Linked DNA regions of Homo sapiens. The protein of the gene in region 4 interacts with the protein of the main gene of each other region in a pairwise test. Each region holds a gene or a part of one and is shown on either strand. Other genes may lie near its edges.

Region 1 (3,525 bases), on a different chromosome or scaffold from region 4:
TGCTCACGCCTGTAATCCCAGCACTTTGGGAGGCTGAGGTTGGTGGCTCGCCTAAGATCAAGAGTTTGAGGCCAGTGTGGCCAACATGGGGATACCCTGTCTCTACTAAAAATACAAAAATTAGCCGGGCGTGGTGGTGCACACCTGTAATCTAGCTACTCGGGAAGCTGAGGCAGGTGAATCGCTGGAACCCAGGAGGCAGAGGTTGCAGTGAGCTGAGATCGCATCACTGCACTCCAGCCTGGTCAACACAGCGAGACTCTGTCTCCAAAAAAAAAAAAAAAAAAAGAAAAAAGAAAAAAAAAGAAACAGAGGAAAGTAGTTAGGTGGCAGCCACTAAGAGCTAAGAGGTCATGAAACCGAAGGTAGGGTTGAGGCCCACATCTTGGGCTTGGCTTGAATCCTGCATGTGTGAGGGGCTACAGGTAAGTTCAAGGAGGTAACATGTTTGAAAATCCACACACAAAAAAATAAAGAAAAATACAAAATGAAACAAAACGAAAATCCACACACAGCCAACTTCATCTTAGAGCCACATACAACAAGTATAAAAGAGGGTGTCTTTGAATAACATCAAATCCATTTTTCAGTTTCACTACATAAAAAGGACAGATGGAAAGATAGTTAACATCAAAAAGGTCTTGACATTCCTAGAACAAAAAAGCTTCCAAAGGGGTATAAATCCACAAGCCTTCAGAATCTAGAAGACTAATTAATTTAATTGCGGTCATCAAACAGAAATCTTATAATGCTCTCCAGGAATTAGCTAATGACGAAGAAGGGAGAATGTTCAGGTACCATGACTTGAATCATTTCAAATTACATAATTCATGGTACTTTAAAATCTATAGTAAGCAATCATTTTTTTAGAATGTGGGAAACTGAGGATAAGGCTAGATTACCAAAATGTCTAAACTATTAAATATCTACAATAGTGAAAGATACCACGTAAAGGTAAGATAGCAAAGAGACTGGTGACACTGGATCACATTCCAAGTGGTAATCTGCAAACCAACTACAAAGCCACCTTTGAACATCAAAAAGGAGCCTTTGAGCTGTCAGCTAGATGGAAGAAAACTAAATGAATAAGCCCTTCTCTTCACTTTTGCAAACTGCTGGAGATAAAGTGGATAAAAGAGTTAATTTTTCATCATTAGTGTCAGTTATTCATCCAAATATTCCAGTTAGAGCCAGAAAACTTTTTTTTTTTGAGATGGAGTCTCACTCTGTTGCCCAGGCTGGGGTGCAGTGGTGCCATCTCAGCTCACTGCAACCTCTGCTATCTTAGTTCAAGCGATTCTCCTGCCTCAGCCTCCCAAGTAGCTGGGATTATAGGCGCCCGCTACCACACTCAGACAATTTTCGTATTTTTAGTAGACAGGGTTTCTTTCTTTCTTTTTTTTTTTTTAGATGGGAGTTTCGCTCCTGTTGCCCAGGCTGGAGTGCAATGGCGTGATCTCGGCTCACCACAACCTCCTCCTCCCGGGTTCAAGCCATTCTCCTGCCTCAGCCTCCCAAGTAGCTGGGATTACAGGCATGTGCCACCACCCCAGCTACTTTTGTATTTTTAGTAGAGACAGGGTTTCTCCATGTTAGTCAGGCTCGTCTTGAACTCCTGACCTCAGGTGATCCACCTGCCTCGGCCTCCCAAAGTGCTGGGATTACAGGCATGAGCCACCACGCCCGGCCAGTAGACAGGGTTTCACCATGTTGGCCAGGCTGGTCTTGAACTCCTGACCTCAAGTGATCTGCCCTCCTCAGCCTCCCAGAGTGCTGGGATTACAGGCGTGAGCCACCATACCTGGCCTAGAGCCAGAAAACTTTGATATATGAAATCTAACATAGAAAGACCAAGGCATTATTTTTTACTTTTAAAAGTAAACTTATGCCAGGCATGGTGCCTCATGCCTGTAATCCCAGCACTTTGGGAGGCTGAGGCAAGTGGATCACTTGAGGCCTGAAGTTCAAGACCAGCCTGGTCAATATGGCGAAACACCATCTCTACTAAAAATACAAAAATTAGCCAGGCATTGTGGCACACACCTGTAATCACAGCTACTCAGGTGGCTGAGACATGAGAATCGCTTGAACCTGGGAGGCAGAGGTTGCAGTAAGCCGAGATCATGCCACTGCACTCCTGCCTGGGTGACAGAGGAAAACTCTGCCTCAAAAAAAGAAGAAAAAAGAATAATTTTCCTGCCTTCTTAATGGCAGGAAAATTCTGTGCTGCAATAGATTATACCTAAAGCATCTACTACCAGTATCTGATGGGAAAAGAGGCAATTATGCTACAACACAGGTAGTCATGGTGGAGCACGACTCTGCCTTCTTACTGTTAACTCTGTAGTTGCAGTTTCTTAAAACAGTCTAATCGCATGAAAGAGAGGGTCTATTTTCCTGGCTATACTTCAAGCTTCTTTTTTTTTTTTTTGAGATGGAGTCTCCCTCTGTCGCCCAGGCTGGAGTGGTGCAGTGGTGCGATCTTGGCTCACTACAAGCTCCGCCTCCTGGGTTCACACCATTCTCCTGCTTCAGCCTCCCGAGCAGCTGGGACTACAGGCACCCATCACCATGCCTGGCTAATTTTTTTTGTATTTTTAGTAGAGACGGGGTTTCACCGTGTTAGCCAGGATGGTCTCGATCTCCTGACCTCATGATCTGCCCGTCTCGGCCTCCCAAAGTGCTGGGATTACAGGCGTGAGCCACCGCGCCCGGCCGACTTCAAGCTTCTTGAGGGCAAGGACTTTCAATTACTTACAGAATCCCAAGGGCCAAATAGAAGCTATTATGGCCATTCAAACACACGACAAACATATGACGAATGGCAGGATGTGAAATAGATGTGCCGTAACATCTTTCTTTCCTCTAACTAGGTGGGCAAATTCCCTTTCGCTCTTGTTACTGTATCTGAGTTAATATCAAAATCAAGGCCAGGTGCGGTAGCTCACACCTGTAATTCCAGAACTTTGGGAGGATGAGGTGGGCGGGTTGCTTGAGTTCAGGAGTTTGAGACCAGCCTGGCCAACAAGGCTCGTTTCTACCCAAAATACAAAAAATTAGCCAGGTGTGGTAGCTTGCAGCTGTAGTCCCAGCTACTCGGTAGGCTGAGGTAGGAAAATCACCTGAGCCTGGGAAGCCAAGGCTGCAGTGAGCTGTGATCACGCCACTGCACTCCAACCTGGGCAACGGGAGTGAGACCTTGTCCTCCCTCTCCCCGCCAAAATCAAGACACCATCATAAAGAGCAGCTTGATATTATGTTCTTAGAAGCATGGTTCAGGCTGGGTGTGGTGGCTCACTCCTGTAATCCTAGCACTTTGGGAGGCCAGCCTGGGGGAGAGAGTGAGACTCTGTCTCAAAAAAAAAAAAAAAAAAAAAAAAAAGCATGGTTCACAAGCAGCTGCTGAAGCGTACCCCATGAGACTGGTTTCAAGTGGCTCACAGGAGCTGCATGTGACTCGATCACATGCTAAAGGCTCATCTCCATAAAGAGTGGCCAAGCTGGGCGCAGTGCCTCACGCCTGTA
Region 2 (3,525 bases), on a different chromosome or scaffold from region 4:
ACTGATTCAGCAGGATTCTTGCTAAAAACTGGACCTACTGGACAGCCAGAGAGCAGGGTCTAATCAGAAAGAGGACTCAAAGGGGCCTTTGTCAATGTCTAAGTCCTTAGCCTGCCTTTAGCAGGAATCCTGCCAGGTCAGGTTAGCAAAAATCCCCCTAATTTCCCATCCACTACCCCCTCCCCTCTCTTCTTTGGCTATAAATCCCTACTCGTCTAGCTGTATTCCAAGTTGAGCTCAATGGCATTGCAATGGTCTTGAATAAAGCCTTCCTTACCATGTCAAGTGGTGTCAAAATAATTCTGTTCTTTAATAGAAACTAAAGAATAAATACTATCCTTCACCTCAAGTAACAACACAGAAAGGGATGGCAGTTAAGAGTCACTGTGACATTAATTTTGTGGATGAAGCAGGAGATTAGAAGAAAATCAACTGTGCACTGAAGGATGCTTCCAATGAGGTTTTTTTTTGAGATGGAGTCTCTCTCTGTCACCCAGGCTAGAGTATAGTAGCACAATCTCAGCTCACTGCAACCTCCGCCTCTTGGGTTCAAGGAATTCTCCTGCCTCAGCCTCCGGAGTAGCTGGGATTACAGGCATGTGCCACCACACACGGCTACTTTTGTATTTTTAGTAGAGACAAGGCTTCATCATGTTCGCCAGGCTGGTCTCAAACTCCTGACCTCAGGCGATCTATCTACCTCAGCCTCCCAATGTGCTGGGATTACAGGCATGAGCCACCGCACTGGCCCCAATGAGTTTTAAAAGAAAGTAAAGTCGCCAATCAGTTGAAACAAGAATGCTGTCAAGCTTAGAAAAGGGGCGGGAATGCTCGAATCATAAAGACCACATGGTTCATGTTTTCTCTGGAAGTTTAGGGATTATCCTTCACTAAACAATAAGGATCCAATCATGGGTGCAGAGAGAGGACAATGCTGTTGTTTCTGATTTTTTATCTTCCTTGTCCCAGGAGGTGATAAGGAGAGGAGAGTAAGTGATTTCACACTGCTAAACAAGGCATAATCCTGGCAAGGGGTGGCCAAAGGGCTCAGAGCATCGCACATCCCTCCTAGAAAAGATTCATCTGGGTCAATAAAATGCTGTTTTGAAGACCAGTTACGCCCAAGGAGGGTTAAATCAACTGGTCATTCACAGTTTAGATCAATGTTTTTTTTTTTTTTTTTGAGACAAAGTGTCATTCTTGTTGCCCAGACTGGAGTGCAATGGTGCGATCTCGGCTCACTGCAACCTCTGCCTCCCCAGTTAAAGCGATTCTCCTGCCTCAGCCTCCTGAGTAGCTGGGATTACAGGCACCTGCCACCACACCTGGCTAATTTTTGTATTTTTAGTAGAGATGGGGTTTCACCATGTTGGTCAGGCTGGTCTCGAACTCCTGACCTCACGCAATCCACCCGCCTCCGCCTCCCAAAGTGCTGGGATTACAGGCGTGAGCCTCCGCGCCCAGCCAATCAATACTTTTAATTGGCCCAAGACTTGTAAGGACAGCAGGGCTTTTCCTGGGGGAGGAGGGAAGACGGTGGGGGAGAGGCAGGCTCAGGTATCATCTGGGTGGGAGGCCCCATCCCCGATCCCAACAGGAGGGCTGTGGGGGTGGGGGCCACAGGGAGAGGGTCTGGCCCACATTGCATCACAATTCCTCCTGGTGTCCAAAGAGGTCCGGGACTCACTGGAAAAATTAAGTTTTCGGCATATTATGGCATCTTTGCAAGACAACTGGTGGCCAATACCTGAGTTGGAATATCAACCCCAACACTTTATAATAATCCACATAATAAGCTTTAATAAGATCGGAATCAACACACTTCTGGTAACGTTAATGTTATCCATAATCACATTCCTACTCCAGTGATTCTCAACTAGGGGCAATTTTGCCCCCCAGCGGATGGATATCTGGCAATGCCTAGGGACATTTGTAGCTGTTAACAATTCCAGACGTAGTACTCGTATCCATGGGCAGAAGCCAAGGATGCTGCTCTAAATCCCACAGTGCCCAGGGCTGAATGCCAATGGTGCAGGGGCTGAGAAACCCAATCCTAATCCACTGAGGCAGGACCAGGCACTTCCAGTCTCAGTCACTTCATTTTGCAAAAAGAGCAACTGTCTCTAATAGCTTCTCAGGGCAACAAGACATCGCATAGCTTTCTACGAAGAGAAGGAGGTACATTTGCAGGTAGGCTGGGGCAGTATTCCGATTGCTGCACTAAGCTTAAATTAACACGATCATCCTCTCTCTATTGCTCTGGGCTTGGTTATATAGGTTGTTTTAACTTTAATTTTCTTAGCTGTTTACGCAAATTTAGTAGTCCAATTTCAACTTCCTCCTCATAGATCAAACTCCTTTGTGCCTCTGAAAAGAGATCACAGAAAGGTCCTAAAATGGCAGTGTTCTTTACGTAACGACAGGCCCGGTGATCTTAAGGCTCCACAGGATGGAAGCTGCAAAGATTCCTCCAAAAGCATTACGTAGGTTAATTAAAAACATTATCTCCCATACAGCCAATCAGCCTTTCCAAGGGAGAGATAAACACTGCCCCTCCTGGATATGCCTTATTTGCTTAGAAATTATTTTTCTAATAAGTACAGACAGCTAGCCCATCACAGTGCATCCCTGTGGTCACCACACGAACGTGTTCAGAGAGAGCTGCCTATGTGTTCTGGAAGCACAGAACTGGCATTTGTGGGGGCACAAGAGAGCAGAGAAGGCCCGGAGGCCTGGCAGAGGTGCCAGGTCGGCTGAGCTAGCCCCTACCTAGCCCTCTGAAGTATCTCCAGGCCCCGAACATGAGCTGACCACGCCCACAGCCATTTCAGATGTCAAGAAGCCTGCAGAGGATGAAGGCTCAAAGGGATCCACTAAGATTCCCAAATATCCTCGCCCAGTGGTTTTCCAAGAGCAGTTCCCAGACCAGCATCCTCATCACGGGCAGACCTGTTAGAAATGCAAGTTTTCAGCCCCCACCGGAGACCTACAGAATCAGACCACTGGGGATGGGGCAGCAGTCTCTATTTTCATAGCCCTCCAGACAATTCTGATATGGGCGAACATTCGGGAATCACTGCCTGGGTCAATGGAACATGACAACATGCAGAAAAACCATGGTAGTGAGTCTTTATGAAAGAAAAAGCTACACCACTTTATTCCTTAATACCCAGTAGCAGGTAATAGCCAGGTGTGGAAACTCTGTTTATACAAATGTTTATGACTGGTTCTTTAAATTGATTTTGATTTCCCACAGTTGTGTACAGCACAGCTTCAAGATGATATGATCCTCGTGTTTATAATGAGTGGTGGGTATGTGTGCTGGGGTGGAATTTTTGTCTTGACTGGTGCAGTAAGCTCTGGGGGCTGGACCTGTAAACATCCTAGAATGAGGTCACATTGCAGCTTTGGGTCAACCGCACTGCTTTCTACTGTTTCTCAAGTTGATATGTCTGATACCTACCTTTGGTACCATATGTGTGACATCCACCCTTCAGTACTATTGTGTTTGACATCTGTCCTTCA
Region 3 (3,500 bases), on a different chromosome or scaffold from region 4:
ACCCAGAGGAAGAAAGGGAGGAGGGCCCGCCTAGGATTCCTCAGGCCGACCAGTGGAAGTCTTCAAACAAGAGCCTGGTGGAGGCTCTGGGGCTGGAAGCCGAGGGTGCAGTTCCTGAGACACAGACTTTGACCGGATGGAGTAAGGGGTTCATTGGCATGCACAGGGAAATGCAAGTCAACCCCATTTCAAAGCGGATGGGGCCCATGACTGTGGTCAGGATGGACGCTTCAGTCCAGCCAGGCCCTTTTCGGACCCTGCTCCAGTTTCTTTATACGGGACAACTGGATGAAAAGGAAAAGGATTTGGTGGGCCTGGCTCAGATCGCAGAGGTCCTCGAGATGTTCGATTTGAGGATGATGGTGGAAAACATCATGAACAAGGAAGCCTTCATGAACCAGGAGATTACGAAAGCCTTTCACGTAAGGAAAGCCAATCGGATAAAAGAGTGTCTCAGCAAGGGAACGTTCTCGGGTGAGTGGGCCGCGGGGCAGAGCCATTAATACCTTTGATTGTGTTTCATTGAACGTTAGCCAGACATGAGCAGGAGAAAGAAGAACGATAGCTAACATTTATACGTACTTATTTTTTCCCATGTACCTTTCTAAGCTACAGGCATTAACTTCTTTAATCCTCATCAGACTTAAAGGTTAAATATGATTGTCTCCATTTTGCAGGTGGAGAAACCAAGGGACAGAGAGGTTAGGTAATCTGCCCATGGTCACACCAGCAATAAATGGTAGAGCCAGGATTTGAACCCATGCTCTTGTGGGTATCAAAACCTGTTCCATAAACCACCATGGTACCACACTGCTCCTCAAGAGTGGATCAGGGACCCCAAGCCTATCTCCAGTGGGCTTGTTGCATACAATTCCCCTTCAGAATCTATTCTCTGACCAATTCTATTCTCCATTGACCCTTCAGCACTGACCCATGACAAAAATCAGTGATCTCAAGTCCTGAGGCCACTAAAGTCCTTGAGGCAATTTTGGTGGCCCTCCATCTTCCTACAAGGGGTGTCTCATCTGTTTCCATCCCCTCTCCTTTTCCGTCCTCATGCTCCTTGGCCCTGCACTTCTGTAGTTTTCCTGCACCTCCTTTGCCTTTGATAACTATGCCATATGCTGCCCGCAGCACCCTTTCATAATTGTTAAGCATGCTGGTGGCCCGCATCCAATATGGGTTATTGACCCATGCTTGTACTGTCTTACACTTGGACTATTTTTGTTCTGAAATTGTTCTCTGGGCTGGTGTGTGGGTGTGTGTAATTTCATCGTAAAATGTTGACTTCCTGACTTCTATTTATATGGATACCTCTACCTTTGTCTTTATCTTTTATAATCCCTGCCAGGGCATTACACATTTAGTAAGTGGTTCCTAAAGACTCAGTTCATTCATTTTAAAGCTTATGAGTAGTATTTACTTCAAACACTGGCCATTGTGTTACAGAAACAGTCTTGAAAATTAATGAAAAGAATATGTTACAAACCTACAGTAACTTAAACAGTGAGCTTTAGGTAGAGTTGATTAAATCACCTCCTCCTTACTGGAGAGGCATAATAATCAAATACAATGTGGGAGTCTCAATTGGATTCTGTTTTTTTTTTTTTAAAGCTATGAAATACGATTTAGGGATAATTGGAGAAATTTGAATATGAACAATATAGTGGATGATAATAGGGAATTATTTTTAATTTTCTTAGGTGTAATCATAGTATGGTTATTTAGGAGACTGTTGTTATTTTGGGAAAACTTGTGATAAGGTAGTTAGGAGTGAAGTGCCATGCTATCTGTAAAAAAAAAAAAGTCTATACACATACACAAAATTATACAAAAATACACATATAGCCAGGCATGGTGGCTAATTTGCCCACAGTCCCAGCTACTTCAGAGACTGAGACAGTAGGATTGCTGGAACCCGGCAGTTTAAATCCAGCCTGGACAACATAGCCAGACCCACCCCCCCCCACATCTCTTAAAAAAAACAGTAATTCGGTTACATTTTGGTATAGCATACGAGTAGAGCATATTATAAATGTAAGGTTTAATTGAGTATTAATAAGTAAAATGGTGTAAATTAAAAATATACGTAAAACAAACATGCCAAAATGTTAACAAGGATAAATGAGTGGTCATCATACTGTTCGTTCCACTGTTTTATATGCTTGAAGTTTTGCATAGCAAGGAGGAAAAAATATTCCCTCCTTTCTATTACTTTCTGGTTCAGAGAGTTTGTGCCGTGACTTTATGTGTGATGATGTCAAATACAGCATGCTGCCTTAGGTGGGAGCTGGGTGTGTCAAAGCTCAAAGATGGGGATTGACATAAAATCAGTAAGTAAAGACATGCAAGAGAGAGTAAGGGAGTCGCAGTTTGGTGGCTATGGGAGCAGAAGCCTTGGTTGAAGCTCTCAGCAAAGTTGGCTCATGGTTGTGTTTCCTCAATCCCTTGGCAGACGTGACATTTAAATTGGACGATGGAGCCATCAGTGCCCACAAGCCGCTGCTGATCTGTAGCTGTGAGTGGATGGCAGCCATGTTCGGGGGGTCATTTGTGGAAAGTGCCAACAGTGAGGTACGTGCCTTCCTAAAAGCATAGTGGTGTCTTTATGAATGTATGTGTGCCTGTGTATTTATATAAAGTGGGTAAACAGCCAGATGACTTTAATCCTTAAACTGGCTCCATGAGTGGTCATCATACTGTTAGTCATAATCATAAGGAGCTATTGCTCCTTAGTAGTGCTTGAGGGTTTGGTCACCTTTTTCTTAGATCTGCAGTTTTGAGGAGCTATTGTTTATTGGTCACTGGTGTGGGGGCACCTGGGTGCTTTACATGCCATATATCTTTTCATCCTCAGAGCCGTCCTCATCCATGAAGACAAGATCAGCTGTACCTCTTGGCAAATGTCACCAGGCATGGTACTATCAAAACCAAGTACAAGAGGAGCATGTCTCCCAGTAGTTCAGAAAGGGAAAAGAGTTCTTCAGCCACCTAAGTCCTGGGCTTAGCTATGCCCCTAACCAGACAGGGGACCTTGAGAAGCCGCATTCCTGTGCCTCAACCTCCTCATCTGCAAGCTGAGGGATGCACTAGATTGTCCTTCAGGTTACCATGTGCTACAATACTGTCTAAGGCTCTGCCCTGACTCTGCCTGTGTTGAGGGGATATGAGGGTTTGTTAACTTTAGGGCAACAGTAATGGAGCAAATGTTTACTCCCCTGAACACACCTCTCAAGGTACTTAGGTCTAGCGGAAGCAGCTACATCACTTGTCAGCCCCTGGCTCTATCTCTAGAAGAGACATATGCTTAGAGAAGAGCAAACAGCATCTTGGATACCCTGTGTCTTTGTCTTTCTTGTTGTTTTACTTTTAACTGACAAATAATAATTATTATACATAGTTATGGGGTACATGATGTTTCAATATACATATACTGTGGAATGATCAAATCGGGTTAATTAGCCTATCCATCACCTCAGATGTTTACCATTTCTTTGTGA
Region 4 (3,525 bases):
TGGTCAGGCTGGTCTCAAACTCCCAACCTCAGGTGGTCTGCCCACCTCGGCCTCCCAAAGTGCTGAGATTACAGGCATGAGCCACCATACCTGGACAGTTGTTCAGTTTTTTTGAGACAAGGTCTTGCTCTGTCGCCCAGCATAGAGTGCAGTCACGCGATCACAGCTCACTGCAGCCTTGAACTCCTGAGCTCAAGTGATCCTCTGCCTCAGCTTCTGGGACAACAGGTGTATACCACTGTGTGCCACTAATTTTTTTCTTTTTTCTTTTTTTTTGTAGAGATGGAGTCTCACTAAGTTAACAAGGCTAATTTCAAACTCCTGGCCTCAAGAGAGCCTCCTGTCTTGGCCTCCCCAAATGCTGGGATTATAGGCATGAGCCACCAAGCCCATCCAGTTGCTTGTTTTTGAAGCCAATTACACATTAAGTGAAATGTCTAACTACGTTTGGGCATGTCAAGTATTTCAAACAATATTTTTTAATAGACCATGGCACCCATTTAAGCACAGCAATGGGTCATGCTTAATTTTTATCTGTGAAATGTCCTAATTTTACATATAATTTTATATCTTTAAATAAAATTAAATGTTATTTTCAAATGCATTACTACTTACCCCTTTGACTCCCTTTTTCAGCTTATCATCAATAAATAATGAGAGGTATTCAGGAGACCTGGAGTTGAGGTTGAGAAAATACTCAAAGTCACCCGCAATAGTTTGTTTAAAGAGACGGTCATTGTTGAATGATTCCAGGAGGAAGCGATCGAACCTACTCTTCAGATCCAATAAGCCCTTAGAAATAAAAACAAAATTTAGGACACATTATAATAATTTTTCCATAAATAATACACTTATGACCATGTATGTTTATCTTAACTTTGCTGGTAATAAACATGTATATTCATTTTTAAACTTACAGTTTTGATATTATTTTCAAGCCTATATCTAAGCCTCTATTAAAAATGTCAATGAGAGAAGTATTATAACTTCCATATATGTATTAATACAATGCAAACGAACCAAAGAACCTCCTCACTGTTTCTCATTCTCCTGTCTTGATGGAATGGGTTAGCCAGTGAAAAAAATTAGCTTAAAAAATGTACCAAAAAAAGCTGATTATGTTAAAACACAAAACATGGCACATAATTTATTCATAGTACTCCTTGAAAACAAAACATTTTCAAACAAAAAATACTTAAACCAGTTGTTTTTTCCAATATACTACAGTATACAAACACTAAGGCATACCAAAGAACCTCACATTCACTATTGAGGCTATTTAAACAAGGTCTTCATCAAAGAAGTTAAATGAAAAGTAGCAGCTGAATTTTAGCTCCCTGATATAAATACGCACACCTTGCAAAATCCTAAAATATGTAGGATAATTACAAATATTAATTTACTACTGGGACAATTAAGTTGAAAGTACACAATACACAGCATGGTAAAAGTGGCCTTTTTAGCACTTGTCAAAATGCCTTTATCATAAACACAGAGAATCTTCTGGGTTTACTTACCTGGATATAGTCAACAGGATTCTTTCCTTCTCCTTCTTCAGAAACAAGAGCTTTACCTTGCTCCCTCAAATAGGAACTCATACACTCACACATTGTTTTCAAACCATTTGGCACACGACTAAATAACTTGTACATGCAACCAAGGTCTACAAATCAGAAAACACAAATTGGCTACATTAAAGATTAAAGAAAAAAACACGAATCTCTGTTCACGCTATAATACTGAGAGAAGCTTATTTCTCCATTACCCCCATTTGCTGACCACATGACTATTAAAAATATACATATATTGATATGAAAACATGAAGAAGTAGGCTAGTTAATGGTTATTATTGTAATTTATAAAACACAACTTTTAGATGAGATGCTTTGAAACCATCAATTAAATGTCCTAGCAAATTTAAATTTACATGGAAGAGATGTCAAAAACCATAATAAACAAGTAATGTCACAAAAACATGGCAACTGCAGTTTTGAGTTCATAAATACTTTATCCTACATAACTCTAATGCAGACCTAATGACACTACAAAACGTCTACAAAAAGGGTCACTAATTAAGAGGTAATTGGTAGTCCCTGTAATGAGGAAGAAATTTTAAAGCCAGTTTAAGTCTTATGGGTATTTCCAAAGGTTTAACTGATAATCATGAAAACAAATCAAATGAACTATACTAGGATTTACTTCATTACACCTCAGGTAAAGTTTTTATGAAATGTATAATATAAATACCACTTCTTCAATATTTTCCTGAGAGCAATCCCTAATGTTTCCCAGGTAGCATCCTAAGCCAATATCTGTACTTCAAAATTTGGTCTATCTCACTATACTTTTTAAATTTAGAATGAAAACTCTGGATCCTATCCATTTTTTAATATCATTTTTCACAAGACTAAAATACAGATTTTAAAATACAGTTTTCCCATATGTCTAGTGTTTCTTTGCAATAACAACTTACTGGGAGAACACAGTGTCAGAACTTTACAATGATAATTTTAAAAGTTTTACAATCAATAACTTTTTAAAATGGCATTAAGAGTTTCTAGATCAGAGGCTGACCAATGTTTTTTCTGTAAAGTATCAGATAATAAATATTTTAAAATGTGAGCCATAGAGCTCTGACTCAACTACTCTGACGCTGTAGCAAGAAAGTAGCCACAGATAATACATAAATTATTCAGTGTGACTATGTTTCAAATAAAACTTCATGGACCCTGAAAATTTATATAAATTTTCATGTGTAAATACTCTTGATTTTTTTTTTTTTTTTAACAAAACTGGTAGTGCACCAGGCAGGCCCTAATTTGCCTACCTTGGTCTACAGTTCTAAGAGTAGTTTAGAGCTTAAAGTTGTATACATTTTTAAAATATTTCAAAGCAAGATTTACAAAGTTTTACTAAACTTTATTTCAGTGACTTTCAGCAGCAAATTTTAGTTAGTTTCCATTAATAATATATGCCCATAGTAACCTACACATGGCAATTTTATAGCTTCTCACATACTTAGCATAAATTACAACCAAGTTTCCCATATTTAGAACAGGTATTACAAATGCAACAATCTATGGACACATACTACAGTAAATGTGGCACACCAAATACTTCTAACAAAATGGTTCACAACTTGTCTATTTCAATCCTATGTTGTTGTAAGTTTTGCTTAGATATTACATGTTGTGTATTTAGTTGTACATAAATTACTACAATTTCATTGTATTTAAATGTTGGGGTAAAGGGAATGTAAAAGTAAATGAAAATAATTTGGCATGCAAAAATTAAATATCATTATTTCTACATACACTTAATAAAATAATAAGATACTGGCGAGACACGGTGGCTCACGCCTGTAATCCCAACACTTTGGGAGGCTGAGACGGGCGGATCACAAGGTCAGGATATCGAGACCACCCTGGCTAACACGGTGAAACCCCCCTGTCTTTAATAAAAATACAAAAAATTAGCCGGGCGTGGTGGCGGGAGCCTGCAGTCCCAGCTACTCATGAGGCTGAG
Region 5 (3,525 bases), on a different chromosome or scaffold from region 4:
GGGGGACAGGCCCTGAAACCAGTTTACACTGGATGTGTATGCAAATCATTACAACAAGCAGTCAGGGGGTTGGCTTCAGCTCACAGAGCAGAAGACATTTAGGACTGGCAAACAATCTCACTGCCAGGCAGTTTGAGGCCAGGAAGATGACAAACTCTACCATACGCTGTGTATTCCAGGGCAGGTCACTTAATCTCTTTGAACCCCAACCTCCATACGTGCAAAACAGAGCAAATCATCTGCCCTGACAACCACACAGTAGGGAGAGATGTCTGATGAAACAACAGATGTGGAAGCAATTTGTAGACTTTAAAGCTCTATTGTTAGCATTTCTTGTTACTTTTATAACTATCTCCCAGCCTTAGTCTTTCACCAGCAAACGTGTGTCAAAGTACAGCATTTAAGAGGAAACCCAGAAGCAGAGATGTCCCAACAAACTCACACCAAACACCTTCTGAGAAAGTCCAGGAAGCTGGTGTCATAGGTTTTCAGCACCATCGTGAGGTCCTTGGAATCTGGGTATCTTTTTTTCCCCCTGTTGTTGGTTATATTTTTAGGAAAACCTTTGGAATCTGTAGAGATAGAACATTCTGTATTTAGTTTCAGGTGTAAATCTTTAGTGGTCACATGATGCTGCTGCTTAGAGTGGCCTCTGTAGCTCTTTTGCTCTCTGTCTTACACACTCGCCTCATGCCACACCCCAATAAACACACACACACACACTCAGTTTGAAATAACCATGTGTAGATTACCCAAGGAATGCAATTTACTTTAAAAATTGATTTTTTCCTACTATTCAGTATGTTCTGAACTTCCTTCCCACTGCCTCCTCTCCAAATCAAAGAAATAATTTAAATGGCTTAACACCAACCAAGATAAAATAATAATGCTAATGATAATAATGACAATGGTAAAGTAAATGTTAAGTGACAAGGTCCTGTGAAATTGTACAAATATCCATTTCCTTTTGGATCATGGCCTTAGCCCTCCCACTTCATCCTACATTGTCCTTTTTACCAATGACCAAAGAAGAATCAAGCTCACAGTCTTATCAATAACAAAGCTCCTAAAGTCATGATCATGTAATTGTTTTTTCTCACTCTGGCCCTCATCAGTCATTCCCTCCATCCCCTTCTTACTACCTGAGCCACCTGGGCCACCTAAGTATAATATCTTACCAGCCTTGAGACAACACCATTTTGCTGCTAATTAGGGGTATTAACTAGGAGTCGCCCGGGGCAGAGGAGCAGTTGGCAGCCCAAACCTGGGAAAGGAACAGTCAAGAACTGAAGTGGACAACCGTGTTTCCCAAACTTATTTTGTCATAAGAATCACAAGGAGCCGTCATTAAAAACGTCGAATCCTGGGTCCTATCGCAATCTTCCCATAGCATAGCTTATAGAAGAGAATCACAGGAATTCGCTTTTTTGCCAAGTCCCCAAATGATTCTTACATTTGGATAGAGTTTGGAAAACACTGACGAAGATGCAGTTCTCAGCAACATTCCTTCTTTCACAGGAAGTGAAGACATGGATATTGCTGCCAAAACCCCATCACCATCCTAAAGCCTAGTGCTGATGGTAGAAATAAGGAACTCTATGAAGTAGACATGCCTATGTCTTTAGTACGTTCCTACGAAGGTGCTCTGTGTTCCCTTCCTGCTAGTCCCCACCTAGATGCTATCTCATGAGTTCAGAGTTACAGGCTCAAGATATGTCTTCCCACAGTGACTCTGCCTAATCCAAAAGGCTGAATTATTAAGTTGTGGGTAGAAAAAGTATATTTGGGATCCAAAGACCAGTTCGCGTGCTCCATGTGTAAATTATACTGGGGAGCCAGCCAGATCCTTTGCCTACCGCCAGATTGCTCGGTTAATGTGTGGTCACCATTCTATGGCAACCAGGACACTGCCCTGCTCAGAGGCAAGGTCTCCAAAGCTCCAGCCATGATTACCAGATGATGTTTAAAAGAATTAACCATTGGAATGAATGGCATGGAACCAACTAATCAGAATGGAAGACAGCCCTGGCACTGGAGTAGGATCATAGAGAACTTCTGCTTGCTTGGCCTTCAGCTTTTAGGTTTTTGGATCATGGAGAGTTTAAGGAGTCCTGGGAGAGGGCCAGGGAGCCTGCAGTTGTAGCAGGGCTCAGGGCTGTGGCTTTTTACCAAATGGTACAGAAATAGACAAATTATAACCCCCACATGGCTGAATCAGTTCATACTGACCAGCATGACCCAAACCCTTTTATCCTAAAGGATCTCCCCACGAGAGTGTTTTGGACCTTCCTACTGATGGAGCAAGTTGTGAACAGAAATTGTGTGATTTGCATACATATTCAGAAGCTGCTCGCAGTTGAAAATCAGAGGTGGGAGGGCCAGGAATGTCTGGGATTGTGTGGTCAGAGGGAGTCCATGAACCGACCTGACAACAATGGCTGGTCAGAAATGTCACTCCAGGTAGCATGGAGTCCCTGTCTGTGGAGTTCCCTTTTCCTCCTATTTGGCTTTGCTCCACTTTGCTGACCTTCAGCCCACTCTGGCTGTTTCTATCTGGGACTCTTAGCTTCCTGTGGTTCTTTAAAGGGATTTTAGGTATGAGATTTGCTGCATCTTTTTGGTGCGTGTACGTTGAAAGCCCTGCCTCAGTTGATACCTTGTCGACCCATCCTTCCATCTTGTATAGGACCACTTAAATAGAAAGGCGGAGGATCATAAAAATCCAGAATTCTGGGAATTATGAGGAGAGGGGCAGCCTGGACTGTGGACGAAGTTTACTCCCAACAATCAGACAGATGACACGTACATAACTACCAGCCACAACACATCAAAGCAAAACTAAGTCCTTGCTTAACCATTGGCAATGAACCTGGCACAGTAAGGTCTGGAGGATAAGAAGAATTTTAGCAGGGGAAACAATAATGCAGCAATGGAATTTTCCACTATTCTTGAAATGAAGCTTCTGCTCTTTGATTTCCCTGCACAGTGCATAGTGTGAGAGGGCAAGTTGCTTGGGAGAGTGGGGAGAACTTCCGGGAGAGGATGCAGTTACAATATTTTGAGGTTGCAATATTTGCTGATAGCTCTTCTGAGCAGGGACCTGGCTATTCTCCTCCTCCTGAGCATTTTTACTGTCAAGACCCTGTTCCCACTGTGACTCCCCCATCCCATCTCCAACATGCTATCCGATTCCCCTGCTCATTATCTTTTACTTCTCTGAAAGACGCTCTTAATCACAGCCCTTTGGTATGTGGCCAGGGGAAAAGAATGAAATGAGCCTTAAGGTATGGCAGGTGTCTTCAAGGCCTGTGACACCTCATGAGACACACTAGGACTTACCAAAGAATGTCTGTCTCCTGGAGGCTGTCTGAATGAAGCCGGCTGGCGGCAGACCCAGCACCTTAATAAGGATAATTCAATTGGTTCATTCTTTGTGGGAGCACAGATTCAAAGGCTGAGGGGTGGAGCGTACTTTGGCCAAGCTTTGCCTTCTACAGATAAGGATTCAAAGCATTAAGTAATAAC

The links.
Region 1: the proteins of CUL3 (region 4) and KCTD2 interact in a two-hybrid assay, tested with the Homo sapiens proteins (one study listed by BioGRID).
Region 2: the proteins of CUL3 (region 4) and CAMK1D interact in a two-hybrid assay, tested with the Homo sapiens proteins (one large-scale study listed by BioGRID and IntAct).
Region 3: the proteins of CUL3 (region 4) and RHOBTB1 interact in a two-hybrid assay, tested with the Homo sapiens proteins (one study listed by BioGRID).
Region 5: the proteins of CUL3 (region 4) and DYRK4 interact in a two-hybrid assay, tested with the Homo sapiens proteins (one large-scale study listed by BioGRID and IntAct).

The regions. Positions count from the first base shown.
Region 1 is NC_000017.11:75,053,716-75,057,240, reverse strand, and holds part of KCTD2 (BTB/POZ domain-containing protein KCTD2), read right to left. Parts: intron 1-3,525.
Region 2 is NC_000010.11:12,762,040-12,765,564, reverse strand, and holds part of CAMK1D (calcium/calmodulin-dependent protein kinase type 1D), read right to left. Parts: intron 1-3,525. UniProt on the Homo sapiens protein: Calcium/calmodulin-dependent protein kinase that operates in the calcium-triggered CaMKK-CaMK1 signaling cascade and, upon calcium influx, activates CREB-dependent gene transcription, regulates calcium-mediated granulocyte function and respiratory burst and promotes basal dendritic growth of hippocampal neurons.
Region 3 is NC_000010.11:60,885,186-60,888,685, reverse strand, and holds part of RHOBTB1 (rho-related BTB domain-containing protein 1), read left to right. Parts: coding exon 1-474; intron 475-2,455; coding exon 2,456-2,574; intron 2,575-2,857; coding exon of another isoform or gene 2,858-2,875; exon of another isoform or gene 2,876-3,500.
Region 4 is NC_000002.12:224,505,341-224,508,865, forward strand, and holds part of CUL3 (cullin-3), read right to left. Parts: intron 1,664-3,525; coding exon 1,518-1,663; intron 793-1,517; coding exon 616-792; intron 1-615. UniProt on the Homo sapiens protein: Core component of multiple cullin-RING-based BCR (BTB-CUL3-RBX1) E3 ubiquitin-protein ligase complexes which mediate the ubiquitination and subsequent proteasomal degradation of target proteins.
Region 5 is NC_000012.12:4,607,202-4,610,726, reverse strand, and holds part of DYRK4 (dual specificity tyrosine-phosphorylation-regulated kinase 4), read right to left. Parts: intron 3,401-3,525; coding exon 3,340-3,400; intron 573-3,339; coding exon 443-572; intron 1-442. UniProt on the Homo sapiens protein: Possible non-essential role in spermiogenesis.